Regions from separate parts of the Homo sapiens genome. Here region 2 is linked to region 1. A link means that fine-mapping ties the variant in region 1 to the expression of a gene that starts in the linked region. Tissue or cell type: whole blood. Region 1 holds a variant in brackets; the other region holds the start of a gene. All regions are shown on one strand. Distances are between the middles of the regions.

Region 1 (8,104 bases):
CTACATCCAGGCTGGCAATAAATATTTGTTCAAGCCTATTATGGACAAGCACCATGCCCAGAAAAATGACGAGGAGGAGGAGAAGAACACCTCTCCCCATTCACAGGAATCATTACCCAGCTATATGTACATTATCTCAATTCCTCACAACTACCTACGGTCAGTATTATTTCCATTTTACGGACGAGGAAATGGAGGCCCAGAGAGTTACTGCGCCTGGCGGTGCACAGTGGCTCATGCCGCTAATCCCAGCACTTTGGGAGGCCGAGGAAAGCAGATCACTTGCAGTCAGGAGTTTGAGACCAGCCCGGCCAACACAGCAAAACTCCATCTCTACTAAAAATACAAAAATCATCCAGGCGCGGTGGCAGGCACCCGTAGTCCCAGCTCCTCAAGGTGCTGAGGCAGGAGCATGGTTTGAACCCAGGAGGCAGAGGTTGCAGCGAGCCGAGATTGCACCACGGCACTCCAGCCTGGGTGACAGTGAGTGAAAATCGGTCTCAAAAAAAAAAAAGTGATGTGCTGATGGTCACACATTCTGCCTTTTGCTGCATTAACTCAGAAAGAGCTCATCTCCTGTGCTTTCACCAAGTTCAGAGCTGGAGTGAGAAATAACATCACAGAAAGGATTCCTAGCGGGCTTTGGTTCTCTGGGAAGGTCCGGCTGGTAAGGCAGAAAAGCAGAAAAGCAGAAAACAGGCTATGAGGTCTGAATTGCATCAGGCCAGTTCCAACCACAGAGCAGGCTGTGGGTGAGGATGGGAAGATGGCAGGGATCAGCTAGGCTGCTCCCTGCCCCAGGGATACTTAGAGGCAGGAGGCCCGATTCAAGTCAGGGCCCTGGCCCTAGACCCAAAATCTTCTCGCTGAAAAAAACCTATAGAGATCACCCAGGAAAATGGAGCATGGAAGCCACCTGGGCAAGGCTGCCCAGCTAGGACATAAAGTCCACCCTCGCTAGGGCACCACAAGACTGCCTGCAGCCTTTCCCACCAGCGAGATGGCAGCCTCAGTGTAATGTATTTCATGCAACCCAGATTTTGAGCAAAGTAAACCGTACTCTTTTCAGAGGTCCAATTCTTTCCCTAAAATACTTAGGTCAGCCCTTGCAGCCTGCTGTTCTTCACTTGCTGTATTTTAGTGAGTTAAACCACCCAAGGATGTTCTAGGCAAAACTCCCACCACTACACACGATCACAGGACTCCATCGGCCCCAGAAACCCAACCCCAGGGATTCATTCATTCAATTAGGCTTCAGGGTCCAGGATGTGAAGAGCACAGTGAATCACACAGACACCCTCATCCTGGAGAGCCCACTCTGATGGCAGGACCATTCTCCATGCTGGGGACAGTACACCTTGGCTCTTGGCAGGGGAGCTTCTCTAATGGTGCCCAAGACAGCAGCTCCTGCCAGTTGCAGAAGCTGAGGGTAGGAAAGGGAGGCCTAGCAAGGCAGCCACTTCCAGACCCTCGAAATGCCAAAAACCTCCAGAGTGTGTGGTTCATCTGAGCAGCCGCAGAGTCTTCACGTGGACGTAACCTTCTCCCAAGCAAGGATGACCCCCATGGGAGTTACAGTGCTCTAAATCCTCTCCTTGCACGAGGTCAAGTAGGAAAAGAAATGATTGCCATATGAAAGTTCAAGTTGGGGACAAAAGGGGCTGAGTGAGGTCCCTGGAGAACAGTTCAGAGGAGCACGGGCTTTGGAGAGAGAATATCTGGATTTGCCCTTTGGCTCAACACCCCTTCCGACCTCTCCAAACCTCTTGGGAATGGTGACTCAGTACCAGTGTCACAGTCCTGGTCCCCACCCCTGGCCCTGCCGCTCCGGCTCCAAGCTGGTTCAGAAAATACGCAACTCACCCAAGGTGTCCAGGTCTGGCATCTCTGCCACTCTCCCATCCCTGGTTCCCTAGAATGGAGCCTCCATCCCCATGTCTAAGCATGCCAGCGCATTTCACCAGAGACCGCGGTGGGAGGGGGGAGTCCACCCAGTTCTACTCGAGAAGCACAGCAGTGCGGTCAGAGAGAAAGGAGCAGGAGCTTAGCTCCTGTGCTCCCTCACAGCTCCAAGAGCCCAGTCATCCTGCGGGCCGCGGTGGGCAGCCGCGAGCCACAACCGTGTCTGGTGACAATCCTAGTAGAGTTCCAGACTGATGCGGCGAGACCACTCCATTCCACCAGGGGCTGGCCCAGAGTTTGGTTCAAAACCGTCAGGTCGCCACTAGCCTCACTGTCCTTCGACTGTGGTGACAGAGCCACTGCTCTGAGCACTCACCTCATACCCAACACAGGAAAGAGGTGCCTCAAAAGCTTGCTGGGCTAGCCTCCTCCCCCACCCCGAGGCTAGCCCCTGAGGCAGCTGCCCCCACTCACCTCTGTCCTCTGTGCTGTCAGGCCTTGCGGAGGCCAACACTCACTATGACTCGGTGGTGCCCGAGCTGCAGAAGACCCAAACTTGACTTTTCAAGCTTCTCTTTCAAGGACTGCCTGGGGCCTGTGGACAGGGGCAGCTGCATTAAAGGCCATTTGTACACACAGAGCACACCTGGGCAAAACAGACCTGGTTTCCAGCACCCCCAAACACCCAGCTTGCCCCCAGCCTGCCCCACAGCTGGCCGCGCTGTGTGCCTCGAAGCCTTACAGCTCAGCACTCTACAGCACTGTCCTTGCTTTTAAATTTTTCTTTTTTTTTAAGGGAAGAAAATCCACAAAACAATCTGTCCTTCTGACAGGCCAGCTCAGATTCCTATCGTGCTAGGTTGGATCAAGGAGCATCATTACGACGGCTTTATCAGAACTGTCTGCTTCAGAAAATAAACAACTTATCAAAGGTAGCCAGGTCTGGCGTCTCGGCCGCTCCCCTACCCCTGCTTCCCTGGAACAGAGGCTGTTTCCCTGTCTCCATGCATGTGAATGCATTTCAGCAGAGACCACAGACCTGTAGGGGAGAAGTCTATCCAGTTGTATTCAACAAACACAGTGGTTAGGGGCAGGGGCTGTGGGGTCAGAGGCCTGACTATGAGCCAGGGCCAGTTTAGGATGGGCCCTGTGAGGAAGGTCAGGGAAGCTGACCTTGCTGCTAAAGGGAACAAAAGGTTTGAAGCGAGGTATGAGGAAGGTCACTCTGGCTGGGTGGGCACTGGCATGGAGGAGGAAGGGCTGGAAGCAGCAAGACCAGGCAGGAGGATGCTTTGGTGATGGGGGGGAGGGTGGCAGTGCCAAGGATGGAGACAAGCAAAGGGTTTAGGAGATACTTAGCAGGTGTATGACTAGCTCTAAGAACGGATGCATGTAGGTGATGAAGGGGGACAAAGAGCTCCGGGTCCTGGCTTCTGTCTTGAGCATTCTGGCTATGGGGTCAGTGGCAGTGGCTGTTCTAATCATGATCAGTGACTTGCATGATGACACTGGCCAGGCCCCTCCCCGATACCTCCCACCTGTACCACAAGGAGGGAGAGTGGCCTCCTAGGCCTTCCCAGCTCCAGGTCGCCTTGGTGGCAGCACTGTGGTCACCTCCTCCTGCCTCGGTGCAGCTTCTCTAAACTCAGGGCAGGCTGCGGGGAGCAGTAAGGGGGCTGGGAGGCACTGCCCGTGTGGCCCGTTGACACGCCACCGTCTCTCCAGGTGGCCTGCAGCAAACCCGCCTTTCCTGCTCCTCTGGACACAGCCGGCCTTGCCCTTGCCAGGCTGCGTGTGGCCCTGGAGCTCCTCTTCCGCCCTCTTCCCGTTTGTACCCACTCTCCAGGGAGACATTTTTCCCCTTTAAACTGGAAATGTGCTCCCTGGCTCCTCCTCAGATCCCTTGTGCTTGAGTTGCTTCTCCAGGCCTTCCAGATAAATCTCTTGAAAATCTGCTGTGCTTGGGGTGCTCCCTGTGAAAGCAGAAAAGCATCTGAGCTACCCTCCCTGTCTCTCCCCACTGCGCGCTCTATTCAGGTATCAACACAGGTATGCCTGGAGCTGGTAGAGCACAGAGACAAGGCAGTCAGGCTCCCTGCACGCAGGGCCTGCAACTTCTCAGCTCTCTCCGGATAGGGCACTGGGGCCTGGGCTTACCCAGAACAGCCAACTGGAATTTGAATGAACATAAAGAGTGGAATTTTTAACAGCCAGATCAAAGCGGGCATTAAAATTAGATGCTACTGGAGGAGCCAAGATGGCCGAATAGGAACAGCTCTGGTGTACAGCTCCCAGCGTGAGCGACGCAGAAGACGGTGATTTCTGCATTTCCATCTGAGGTACCGGGTTCATCTCACTAGGGAGTGCCAGACAGTGGGCGCAGGTCAGTGGGTGCGCGCACCGTGCGCGAGCCGAAGCAGGGCGAGGCAAAGCCTCACTTGGGAAGCGCAAGGGGTCAGGGAGTTCCCTTTCAAAGGGAGTCAAAGAAAGGGGTGACAGACGCACCTGGAAAATCGGGTCACTCCCACCTGAATACTGCGCTTTTCCAACGGGCTTAAAAAACGGCGCACCACGAGATTACATCCCGCACCTGGCTCGGAGGGTCCTACCCCACGGAGTCTCGCTGATTGCCAGCACAGCGGTCTGAGATCAAACTGCAAGGTGGCAGCGAGGCTGGGGGAGGGGCGCCCGCCATTGCCCAGGCTTGATTAGGTAAACAAAGCAGC[CG/C]GGAAGCTCGAACTGGGTGGAGCCCACCACAGCTCAAGGAGGCCTGCCTGCCTCTGTAGGCTCCACCTCTGGGGGCAGGGCACAGACAAACAAAAAGACAGCAGTAACCTCTGCAGACTTAAAGGTCCCTGTCTGACAGCTTTGAAGAGAGCAGTGGTTCTCCCAGCACGCAGCTGGAGATCTGAGAACGGGCAGACTGCCTCCTCAAGTGGGTCCCTGACCCCTGACCCCCGAGCAGCCTAACTGGGAGGCACCCCCCAGCGGGGCACCTCACAGGGCCGGGTACTCCAACAGACCTGCAGCTGAGGGTCCTGTCTGTTAGAAGGAAAACTAACAAACAGAAAGGACATCCACACCAAAAACCCATCTGTACATCACCATCATCAAAGACCAAAAGTAGATAAAACCACAAAGATGGGGAAAAAACAGAACAGAAAAACTGGAAACTCTAAAAAGCAGAGCACCTCTCCTCCTCCAAAGGAACGCAGTTCCTCACCAGCAACAGAACAAAGCTGGATGGAGAATGACTTTGACGAGCTGAGAGAAGAAGGCTTCAGACGATCAAATTACTCTGAGCTACGGGAGGACATTCAAACCAAAGGCAAAGAAGTTGAAAACTTTGAAAAAAATTTAGAAGAATATATAACTAGAATAACCAATACAGAGAAGTGCTTAAAGGAGCTGATGGAGCTGAAAACCAAGGCTCGAGAACTACGTGAAGAATGCAGAAGCCTCAGGAGCCGATGCAATCAACTGGAAGAAAGGGTATCAGCAATGGAAGATGAAATGAATGAAATGAAGCAAGAAGGGAAGTTTAGAGAAAAAACAATAAAAAGAAATGAGCAAAGCCTCCAGGAAATATGGGACTATGTGAAAAGACCAAATCTACGTCTGATTGGTGTACCTGAAAGTGATGGGGAGAATGGAACCAAGTTGGAAAACACTCTGCAGGATATTATCCAGGAGAACTTCCCCAATCTAGCAAGGCAGGCCAACGTTCAGATTCAGGAAATACAGAGAACGCCACAAAGATACTCCTCGAGAAGAGCAACTCCAAGACACATAATTGTCAGATTTACCAAAGTTGAAATGAAGGAAAAAATGTTAAGGGCAGCCAGAGAGAAAGGTCGGGTTACCCACAAAGGGAAGCCCATCAGACTAACAGTGGATCTCTCGGCAGAAACCCTACAAGCCAGAAGAGAGTGGGGGCCAATATTCAACATTCTTAAAGAAAAGGATTTTCAACGCAGAATTTCATATCCAGCCAAACTAAGCTTCATAAGTGAAGGAGAAATAAAATACTTTACAGACAAACAAATGCTGAGAGATTTTGTCACCACCAGGCCTGCCCTAAAAGAGCTCCTGAAGGAAGCGCTAAACATGGAAGGGAACAACCGGTACCAGCCGCTGCAAAATCATGCCAAAATGTAAAGACCATCGAGACTAGGAAGAAACTGCATCAACTAACGAGCACAATAACCAGCTAGCATCATAATGACAGGATCAAATTCACACATAACAATATTAACTTTAAATGTAAATGGACTAAATGCTCCAATTAAAAGACACAGACTGGCAAATTGGATAAAGAGTCAAGACCCATCAGTGTGCTGTATTCAGGAAACCCATCTCACATGCAGAGACACACATAGGCTCAAAATAAAAGGATGGAGGAAGATCTACCAAGCCAATGGAAAACAAAAAAAGGCAGGGGTTGCAATCCTAGTCTCTGATGAAACAGACTTTAAAGCAACAAAGATAAAAAGAGACAAAGAAGGCCATTACATAATGGTAAAGGGATCAATTCAACAAGAAGAGCTAACTATCCTAAATATATATGCACCCAATACAGGAGCACCAAGATTCATAAAGCAAGTCCTGAGTGACCTACAAAGAGACTTAGACTCCCACACATTAATAATGGGAGACTTTAACACCCCACTGTCAACATTAGACAGATCAAGGAGACAGAAAGTCAACAAGGATACCCAGGAATTGAACTCAGCTCTGCACCAAGCGGACCTAATAGACATCTACAGAACTCTCCACCCCAAATCAACAGAATATACATTTTTTTCAGCACCACACCACACCTACTCCAAAATTGACCACATACTTGGAAGTAAAGCTCTCCTCAGCAAATGTAAAAGAACAGAAATTATAACAAACTATCTCTCAGACCACAGTGCAATCAAACTAGAACTCAGGATTAAGAATCTCACTCAAAACCACTCAACTACACGGAAACTGAACAACCTGCTCCTGAATGACTACTGGGTACATAACGAAATGAAGGCAGAAATAAAGATGTTCTTTGAAACCAACAAGAACAAAGACACAACATACCAGAATCTCTGGGACGCATTCAAAGCAGTGTGTAGAGGGACATTTATAGCACTAAATGCCACAAGAGAAAGCAGGAAAGATCCAAAATTGACACCCTAACATCACAATTAAAAGAACTAGAAAAGCAAGAGCAAACACATTCAAAAGCTAGCAGAAGGCAAGAAATAACTAAAATCAGAGCAGAACTGAAGGAAATAGAGACACAAAAAACCCTTCAAAAAATTAATGAATCCAGGAGCTGGTTTTTTGAAAGGATCAACAAAATTGATAGACCACTAGCAAGACTAATAAAGAAAAAAAGAGAGAAGAATCAAATAGACGCAATAAAAAATGATAAAGGGGATATCACCACCGATCTCACAGAAATACAAACTACCATCAGAGAATACTACAAACACCTCTACACAAATAAACTAGAAAACCTAGAAGAAATGGATAAATTCCTCGACGTATACACTCTCCCAAGACTAAACCAGGAAGAAGTTGAATCTCTGAATAGACCAATAACAGGAGCTGAAATTGTGGCAATAATCAATAGCTTACCAATCAAAAAGAGTCCAGCACCAGATGGATTCACAGCCGAATTCTACCAGAGGTACAAGGAGGAACTGGTACCATTCCTTCTGAAACTATTTCAATCAATAGAAAAAGAGGGAATCCTCCCTAACTCATTTTATGAGGCCAGCATCATTCTGATACCAAAGCCAGGCAGAGACACAACAAAAAAAGAGAATTTTAGACCAATATCCTTGATGAACATTGATGCAAAAATCCTCAATAAAATACTGGCAAAACGAATCCAGCAGCACATCAAAAAGCTTATTCACCATGATCAAGTGGGCTTCATCCCTGGGATGCAAGGCTGGTTCAATATACGCAAATCAATAAATGTAATCCAGCAGGTAAACAGAGCCAAAGACAAAAACCACATGATTATCTCAATAGATGCAGAAAAAGCCTTTGACAAAATTCAACAACCCTTCATGCTAAAAACTCTCAATAAATTAGGTATTGATGGGATGTATTTCAAAATAATAAGAGCTATCTATGACAAACCCACAGCCAATATCATACTGAATGGGCAAAAACTGGAAGCATTCCCTTTGAAAACTGGCACAAGACAGGGATG
Region 2 (8,104 bases), 400 kb before region 1:
AGCTATGGTTCAAGTGGCAGCAGCAGCCTGTGGCTGGTGACTGCGTACTGGGCCGCACAGGCTGCAATGCTCTCCCCCATCTCTTTGCAGGTTCATCTCATTCCTGTCTCTGCCCAGAGCCACCTTCCCTGGCCATGCTGTCTAAACCAGCCACCTCTCACTCCTAGCACTGCCTCCTTTTCTCCAGAGACTTTTCACTATCTGCTATTTCATTAGTTTTTTGTTTACTGTCTGCCCTCCTGCCTCCACCAGAGGCTATAAATCCCATGCAGGCAAAGACCTCTCTATCTGTCCTCTTTAGTGCTATATCCCCAGCAACTATGTGACATTCATGGGAGACTCTCCACAAGTATTTACTAGATGACATTGAAGATTCCAGATTCGTCATGTGTCATCTCTGAAGTCAATGTCCACTGAGTAGGATGTTGGAGGAGGGGCGAGAGGAAGGAGCATTATGTAAGACGTAAGGTGGGAGGAAGCTGGTCCAAATCCTCTGTGAGATGAAAGGCTTACTCCTGGATGTCAAGTTTAGGGCTGGGACTCCTGATGGCAGCATTTCCTTCCAACTGCGACCCGGTTGTGTGTAGTTTCAACCACTAGCTTATCTGGTTTGACGAGAAACCATCCACCGAGCAGCATTTCTGCCTGCTACCAGTAGATGGGGGCAGTGTCATTAAAAAAGTACACTGCAGTTTCTAACCTGTTTCCCAGCTCCACTTTGCTGACAGTCTGTTCTGGAGTTGCCCTGTCTCAGATCTGTGATGTGGACTCCCACATGGTGCTGCCAGCTCTCCCAGCTGAAGAAACGCAGCCTTAATTGTGATGTGTGCTTCAGGTGGGGTGGTCAGCTTCTCCATAAGGTGAGGCGGGCCCTAGAGGCTGGCACAGGTCCAGGCCACAAGGGGACCGCGGGTTCTCCTCCAGGGCATGACTCACACCAGGGTGTTCACACTGGCCTAGAACCTTTCTGTTCTCCCAAGGTTGGAAACAAGCTTATTAGGAAGGCGGTCAAGGCGTGACATAGCCTCGTCAACAGGAGCAGCTCTGTGGGCCTGTGCCGCTGGGACTGGCACTCCGGCTGCTGCTGAACAGCCCGGCCCACCAGTAGACTCCTCCCTGCCTCTGTGGGCCACTGGGGTCCATGCCACTGCATGAAGTGCAAAGTGGTGCCTCTCGCTGAGGCTGAGACCAGCCTTAGCTCCTGCTACTACTCCCTCTTCCTCTTCCCCAAACCCTCTTGAGCCTTGGAACTTTGAGCGATTTGGAAATGATCACTGCTTAAACATGATGTCTGCTTTTGTGGAGTTCAAGATTATGGACCTACTAAAGGTCACTGAACACAGCCTCATTTGATATGTTTTTACCAGAGTTTTTGTTCTTTAGAGCGTGTGCTATCTCCTTCATTGCCACTACAAGATAGCCTAGAAATTTAAGGAATTAATGTTGCCTTAAATGGCTTATTATAGTACTAACTACCTCATTCCAACAGCATGTCTGGTATCCCTCCATTAACCCATCAGTGCAGCTGAGGAGTAAGGCATTATAGCTCTGGTTGAAGGACCCTGTGGGGCCAGTTAGCCATGAAGAGGCCATTCCTTCCCTTGGAGTGTAAGAGAGCCAAAAAACACAATCAGGAAGGTTTATTCTTTGATTGTTACAAGCTCCATCTTAATTACTACATGTGTATGCATTTTCTTTCTTTCTTTCTTTCTTTTTTTTTGAGACGGTCTCACTGTGTCATCCAGGCTGGAGTGCAGTGGCGCGATCTCGGCTTACTGCAACCTCCGCCTCCCGGGTTCAAGGGATTCTCCTGCCTCAACTTCCCAAGTAGCTGGAATTACAGGCGTGCACCACCATGCCCAGCTAATTTTTGTATTTTTAGTAGAGATAGAGTTTTGCCATGTTGGCCAGGCTGGTCTTGAACTCCTGACCTCAAGTGATCCACCCGCCTCAGCCTCCCAAAATGCTGGGATTACAGGCGTGAGCCACCGCGCCTGGCCTTATGCATGCATTTTCATGCTTCTGTAATTTTGCTACCCTCTATACCCATAAAGCCCTTCAGTCTTTTCCTATTTGGATAAATTCTGTTTATCTTTCAAAGGTCACCACCTCCATGAAGCCTTTTCTGATTTTCCTAGTCACAATGAATGCTTTCTTCCTCCAGCTTCTCATAGTGCTTTGAGTCTTTCTCATAGCATTTAGCCCACTCTGTCTTCTTGTCCACATGCATATCTTGCTCATTAATTCTAGTTACTGAGTGCCTATTTGTACCATATTGGGGATACAGGGTACTTGCAGAGAACCCACAGTCCAGTGGAAACCCAGAGTTGGGTAGAGTTTACAACCTTCATTGGACTAGGAGGCAGGAATCCCGTCTGCTCCTAGCTCAGGGCCGGGCACCAAAAGGTAGTCAGAAAAGTAACTTAAATGGAAACTCAGCAAAGTAACTTAAATGGAAACTCAGCATCAACGACTCTGAGAAAATTGAGTTAGATTTCAAAGGAAGGTTAAAAGTTGGCAAAGGTAGAGGGTGGGCAGGGGTCAGTTTTATTTTGTTGGAATATCCCAAGGGAATTTCCAGGTATGGTTGCAGTGACTCTGGCATGAAGACCTGGCGTGGAAGCCAGAGACATCAAAGATCCCCAGGGGACTGGGATGGTGGGAAGGGATCACTGTCCTCCTCCAGGACCAGGCTGGGAGTTTGATGCAGGATCATTCGGACATTGATCCCACTCCAGCCATACGTCTTTTTGCTTTGACTGACCATACCATAGAGGCAAGCAGGCTGTTTCAAGGGCCCAGAAATGAGTTACTGGCTAAGGGTCAAGCCGGTCAGAAGACAACTACACTGTCCAGTTGGCACATGATAAAAGCAATACTGATGCAATTATCACTCCCATTGGAGGGTGGCCTGGCATTATTTGTCACTTAAATAAAAAACGTCATTTGAATTTTTACTAGGAATTCTCATCCAAAATATGTCAATGATAGAATGAAACCGCATGACCGGCTTGCCAAAGTAAACTAAGTCCTAACGACACACGAGCATTAGAAATTGTGTGTATCTCAGAAAACTGCTCTACCCTGAGGCCTGACAGCAGGAGGGGGTCTTGCCGGGGTTCGGACGGGGAAAAGCCTTATTCATTGACGGTATTCTACAGTAGTCACCCCAATCATGTTACCACTCACCTCACTTTACACTGTCTGCTGCTTACCTGTGAATACGAGCTCAAGATAGTGAGAGATAAGCCTTGGTGTTTTCTGTGCCTCTCTCTTTTCTTTAATGGAATACAATTCTGAAAATAATATTAAACAGCACCCAGTCATTCTCAGAAAGCCGTCACACAAGGAAGAAACCACTATTTTCCCAAACTTTTTGTACAGGAAATTATAATCTGTAATCTCATCTTCTGCCACCTCCCTCAGAAGTTTCGATCTAGACATACATGTATTCAGTGAGTGGCAATTCAGCCTGGGGGGTGGAGTGTCAGGATTCAAATCTTTTTGCTGCGGGGTAACCCCAGGTCCCAGTGATTTCCATAGACAAAAGAGATGCTGGTAAATTTGGGATGTAATTGGAGGATTGGACCGGTCTCCCCGCTCCCTCGACCAATGGCTGTCACGCGGTCCCTTTAAGAAACCAGGAATCCGCCCGGAGTCGGAGCCCAAAACAGATCCTCTTCTCTGCTCCTCCCCTGTCCCCGCGCGGCGAATGGTTCGCGCCGGCCTATATTTACCCGAGATCTTCCTCCCGGACGGCAAGGATGTGAGGCAGGCGAGCCGGACGCCGCTCGCAGCACCGGAGAGGGCGCACTGCAAAGGCGGGCAGCAGACCGTGGAGAGCCCGGGAGCGGAGCTGGACACCGCCTCGGAGGGAAGAAATGAGGTAGCGGCGGTTCCCGGACCCGGCCATGCCCGTCCCCTGTTCTCGGAGCCCAGCGCCGTCTCGGCCAGGCCAGCCCGGACACTGAGCGGGCCGAGCGCGAGTCCCCGGCGTCCGGCGGAGCGAAGATGCAGTGAGTCCCCGCGGGACTGCTGCGCGGGGCCCGCCGCGGCCAGCCGGACCCAGCATCCGACCGCACTTTGGGCGAGCTGCTGACTTGAGACCAGCCCAAACGGGGGGCTTTCCATCTCCAGCACCCCTCGGAGGTGGGGAGCACCGGCCCCTAGGCACACTCGCTGTAGAGTTTCCGCGGGTTTTGGCCCCAGTCCTGAGGGTTGTGTGTGTTAGGGGACCCACCTCACGTTCGCCGAGGAGTTCCTGCATATTCTTGCACCATCCCGGGTGCTGTTGCTGGGGCTCTCTTTATTTGCACGCGCGCTTCTAGCTTTTTTCCTGACATTTTCCACTCTACGCTCGTTCTTTCTCCCTTGCATTTTGTTGCTTGCCTGAGACTCTTTGCTCTCGCCCTTGCCCAGGCTGGGGTAATTCTGTGTGCGCGCGTGTCTCCCCCGCACCAACCTTTTTTGCACACTCGAAGCTGAATATTTTCTTTTTTAGAGAATTTACCCGCACCTCCTGCGGGGTTCCTAAGCACTCTCTCTGCTCCCCTCCCCCCAACTCCCTACCACAGGGCCGCTCCCAGTAGTTTTATTCTTCGATCTTGCCCGGGCCGAGCCTGGCAGGGGCCGGTGGCTCAGCGGGCCTCGCACCCGGCGCTCCGCCGCCGCCGCCGCCCAGCTGCGCCGGGGCGCCCTCCGGAGATGCTGCCGTGGAAGAAGCACAAGTTCGAGCTGCTGGCCGAGGCGCCGCCGCGGCAGGCGTCCAAGCCCAAGGGCTACGCTGTGAGCCTGCACTACTCGGCGCTCAGCTCGCTGGCGCGGGCGTGCCCCGAAGGCGCGCTTAGCCGGGTGGGCAGCATGTTCCGCTCCAAGCGCAAGAAGCTGCACATCACTAGCGAGGACCCAACTTACACCGTGCTCTACCTGGGCAATGCCACCACCATCCAGGCGCGCGGCGACGGCTGCACCGACCTTGCTGTGGGCAAGATCTGGAGCAAGAGCGAGGCGGGCCGTCAGGGCACCAAGATGAAGCTGACGGTGAGTGCGCAGGGTATCCGCATGGTGCACGCCGAGGAGCGCGCGCTGCGCCGCCCGGGCCACCTCTACCTGCTGCACCGCGTCACCTACTGCGTGGCCGACGCGCGGCTGCCCAAGGTCTTCGCCTGGGTGTACCGGCACGAGCTGAAGCACAAGGCCGTGATGCTGCGCTGCCACGCCGTGCTGGTGTCCAAGCCCGAAAAGGCGCAGGCCATGGCCCTGCTGCTCTACCAGACGTCGGCCAACGCGCTGGCGGAATTTAAACGCCTCAAGCGGCGGGACGACGCGCGTCACCAGCAGCAGGAGCTGGTGGGCGCACACACCATCCCGCTAGTGCCGCTGCGCAAGCTGCTCCTACACGGACCCTGCTGCTATAAACCGCCGGTGGAGCGCAGCCGCAGCGCGCCCAAGCTTGGCTCCATCACCGAGGACCTGCTCGGCGAACAGCTGGAGCAGGAGCTGCAGGAGGAAGAGGAAGAGGAGCAACCCGAGGGCTGCCCGGAGGAGGAGGAGAACCGTGCGGCAGAGGGAGATCCAGCAGAGGAGGAGGCCGAGGCGCAGCGTGCGCTAGTGGTCGCCATGCACTTTGAGTGCGGGGACTTGTTGGATACTCTGGAGAATGGCCGTGGGGAGGCGCTAGGAGGCGGCGGGGGCTCCCTGGGCCCGGGGGCCGGGCCGCCGCCTCTGCTGCTGGGCAGCGCCTCCGACATGAAGGCTGAGCTGTCGCAACTTATTAGCGACCTGGGCGAGCTCAGCTTCGGCAACGACGTGCGCACCCTGCAGGCCGACTTGCGGGTGACGCGCCTGCTGTCAGGCGACAGCACGGGCAGCGAGAGCTCCATCGAGGGCGGGGGCCCTGACGCCACCTCCGCCACCGCCGGGGACTCGTCCCGCCAGGCCGACGGCGCCAGTGCAGACGAGCCCCACTCGGGCTGAGCTCCTCCGCGCGTCGCCGGCGCTCCACCGTGGCTACCCATCCGTGGTCCCGACAACCTCCCTGTCCCTTGCCCGCCCCCAGGAAGGGGGAAATGGGGCATTTGGGGCCCAGACCTACACTTGGAGCCCAGGTCCAGCGTTCCCCCGACCGCTTTCCCCTACCTCCCGGCCCCCGCTCCCGCCCCAGCACTTTTGGCTCTGTTGCGCGTGGGGATGCGGGGAGATTTGAGAGGGGAAAACCCCGCCAGGAGGGAGAGAGAGGCACCCCTCTGGGATGCGGGTGAGGGAAGGTTGGCTGAAGTTCCTAGTCTCAGGCCGTAGGTGCCTGGCCAGTTTCCTGTTTGTGGGGCAGCTGGGGCCTGAGGAGGAGGGGTTCACTTCCTCCTCCCACCCCCTGGGAGCGGCCCTGCGCTGTCACTGACATCTCATTAAAAAAAAAAAAAAATTTGCTCTCAAGGTGTTTGAGGCTTTAATGCAACCCTTTAGCCCTTGGTTCTTTTTGGTGCAAGAATTCTGGCTGTTTACCTCAGACTCAGACCCCTGAAATGTTGCCAAATTCTTCAAATAACTGTTTGGGGGGTGGGGGGAGATGAAAGAGAGTCGCGTTTTGTTTACAGTTAAAGACATCCAATATCTTAAAAAGGAGTTTTCCTTTAGAAACACACACACCCTTCCTCTTGCTCAAAAGATCTCACTCCATGATACTGTGTAAAATATTTTTGCACTGTTGTGAAGTATTTTTGACTTTTTTCTGTACATAACTGTGTTCTCAGAGCTGAATGTTTATATCTTTTGCTGTGCAAAAGAAACATGTAAAATGTTGTTCAGTTGTATATACAGAAATGTGTATAAAACATTTTGTTATTTTTTAAAAGTAGCACTGTTCTGGTTCTGTTTGCACGCCAGTGGGGAGAGAATAAAGAGGAAAATTTAACAGAACAGGTGAGCGTCTGGAACTGCTGCGTTGGGGTGGGAGAGGCTGTGTCTGACCCTGGGATGGTGTCATAAGACAGTCTTTGGCCTTTCCTGTGCTTGGAGAGAATTAGGGAAGGAAGGTCCACTTTATGCGCCATCTGGGGCCTTCCTGGACCTCCACAACTCTGGGTGCTGTGTCTGGGACCAGCCTTTTCTTGTATTATCCTGTATTTTTCAGTAATTAAGTTGTGTGATCTTTTTCTGGTCTTTTGGAGAGGCCACGGTGAGTTCCATATCGCACTCCCAGACCTGTGAGGTTATTTATGGAGGAGTGACTTCCAGATCTGCTGAGATTTTACTACCTCCTTCTGTGGGCCATGCTAATAATCAAGCGTAAGGAGACTACCTTATCTTTTCCTTTACAAACAGCTCAGGGAGCTTTAAAGATGAACTAGAAACCCAAAGAGGAGTTCTCTGAGGAGTGGGGCCATCTCTGTTTTTCCTGGGAGGAAAACCAAGGAGAGAAAAGTTGACAAGTTCCGATCCTGGTGTGAGTGAGTCACGGTGCAGGTGGGTGGGTGGCTGGGCAGGCTGCAGAGCCCATTTCCTTCCCTTCTACAACCCAGTGTGACCCAGTTGGGGGATGGCGCGAAGGTCGAGGGGGAGAGGAGCTGTTAGAGCGCGGTATGGGTGTGCATGTTTCAGCGCTTTCATGCTTTCTGTGTGTTTGTTTCTGTTGTAAACTCCAAACAGATGTCTCTAGTTTGGCTACACCCGATCAGCTGGAAGTTGTAATAAGATGCTGCCAAAACTGTGCCTTCTGCAAATTATATTTTCCTTTTGCCCCTTGAGGCCTCTCTTCCTGTGTTGCAGAAATGGATCTCACTCCTGGCCTTCCCTGGTGTCCTGAGGCCACTTTGCTTTGTTTTCATCATAAATATGTTCTGAGCAGCTAGACCCAGAAATCCTAAGGAGTCTGGAATTCACTGGAACCATAGAGGAAAGAGGGGTGAAAGATTTTCTTCCTAATTAACAGGAATGGTTCAGGCATAGAACTATCTTTAAAAAAGAAAAGCAAAGGGGGCGAGTGGAAAATATGTGTGTGTGTGTGTGTGTGTGTGTGTGTGTGTATATATATATATATTTTTTTTTTTTTTTTGAGACGGAGTTTCACTCTTGTCACCCAGGCTGGAGTGCAATGGTGCAATCTCAG

Evidence for each region. PIP is the estimated chance that this variant, and not a neighbour inherited with it, causes the effect.
Region 2: it holds the start of FAM43A, and the variant in region 1 is fine-mapped to the expression of FAM43A in whole blood (INTERVAL, PIP above 0.99).

The regions. Positions count from the first base shown.
Region 1 is chr3:195,083,526-195,091,629 of GRCh38, forward strand. The region is part of intron 3 of XXYLT1 (xyloside xylosyltransferase 1); the gene reads right to left. Among named protein-coding and RNA genes, the nearest start is that of XXYLT1-AS1, 7.0 kb to the right of the region's middle. The variant CG/C (reference allele first, on the strand shown) is at 4,629.
Region 2 is chr3:194,682,123-194,690,226 of GRCh38, forward strand. It overlaps FAM43A (family with sequence similarity 43 member A), which reads left to right and starts at 3,761. Exons shown (of 1, transcript NM_153690.5): 1 at 3,761-6,915. The coding sequence starts at 4,705. The coding sequence ends at 5,976. LOC124909474 reads right to left here and starts at 4,787. Exons shown (of 3, transcript XM_047449428.1): 1 at 3,738-4,787; 2 at 3,216-3,296. The coding sequence starts at 4,131. RefSeq lists enhancers at 756-805, 3,491-3,850, 4,602-5,107, 5,108-5,611, 7,458-7,577 and silencers at 4,591-4,780, 5,611-5,910.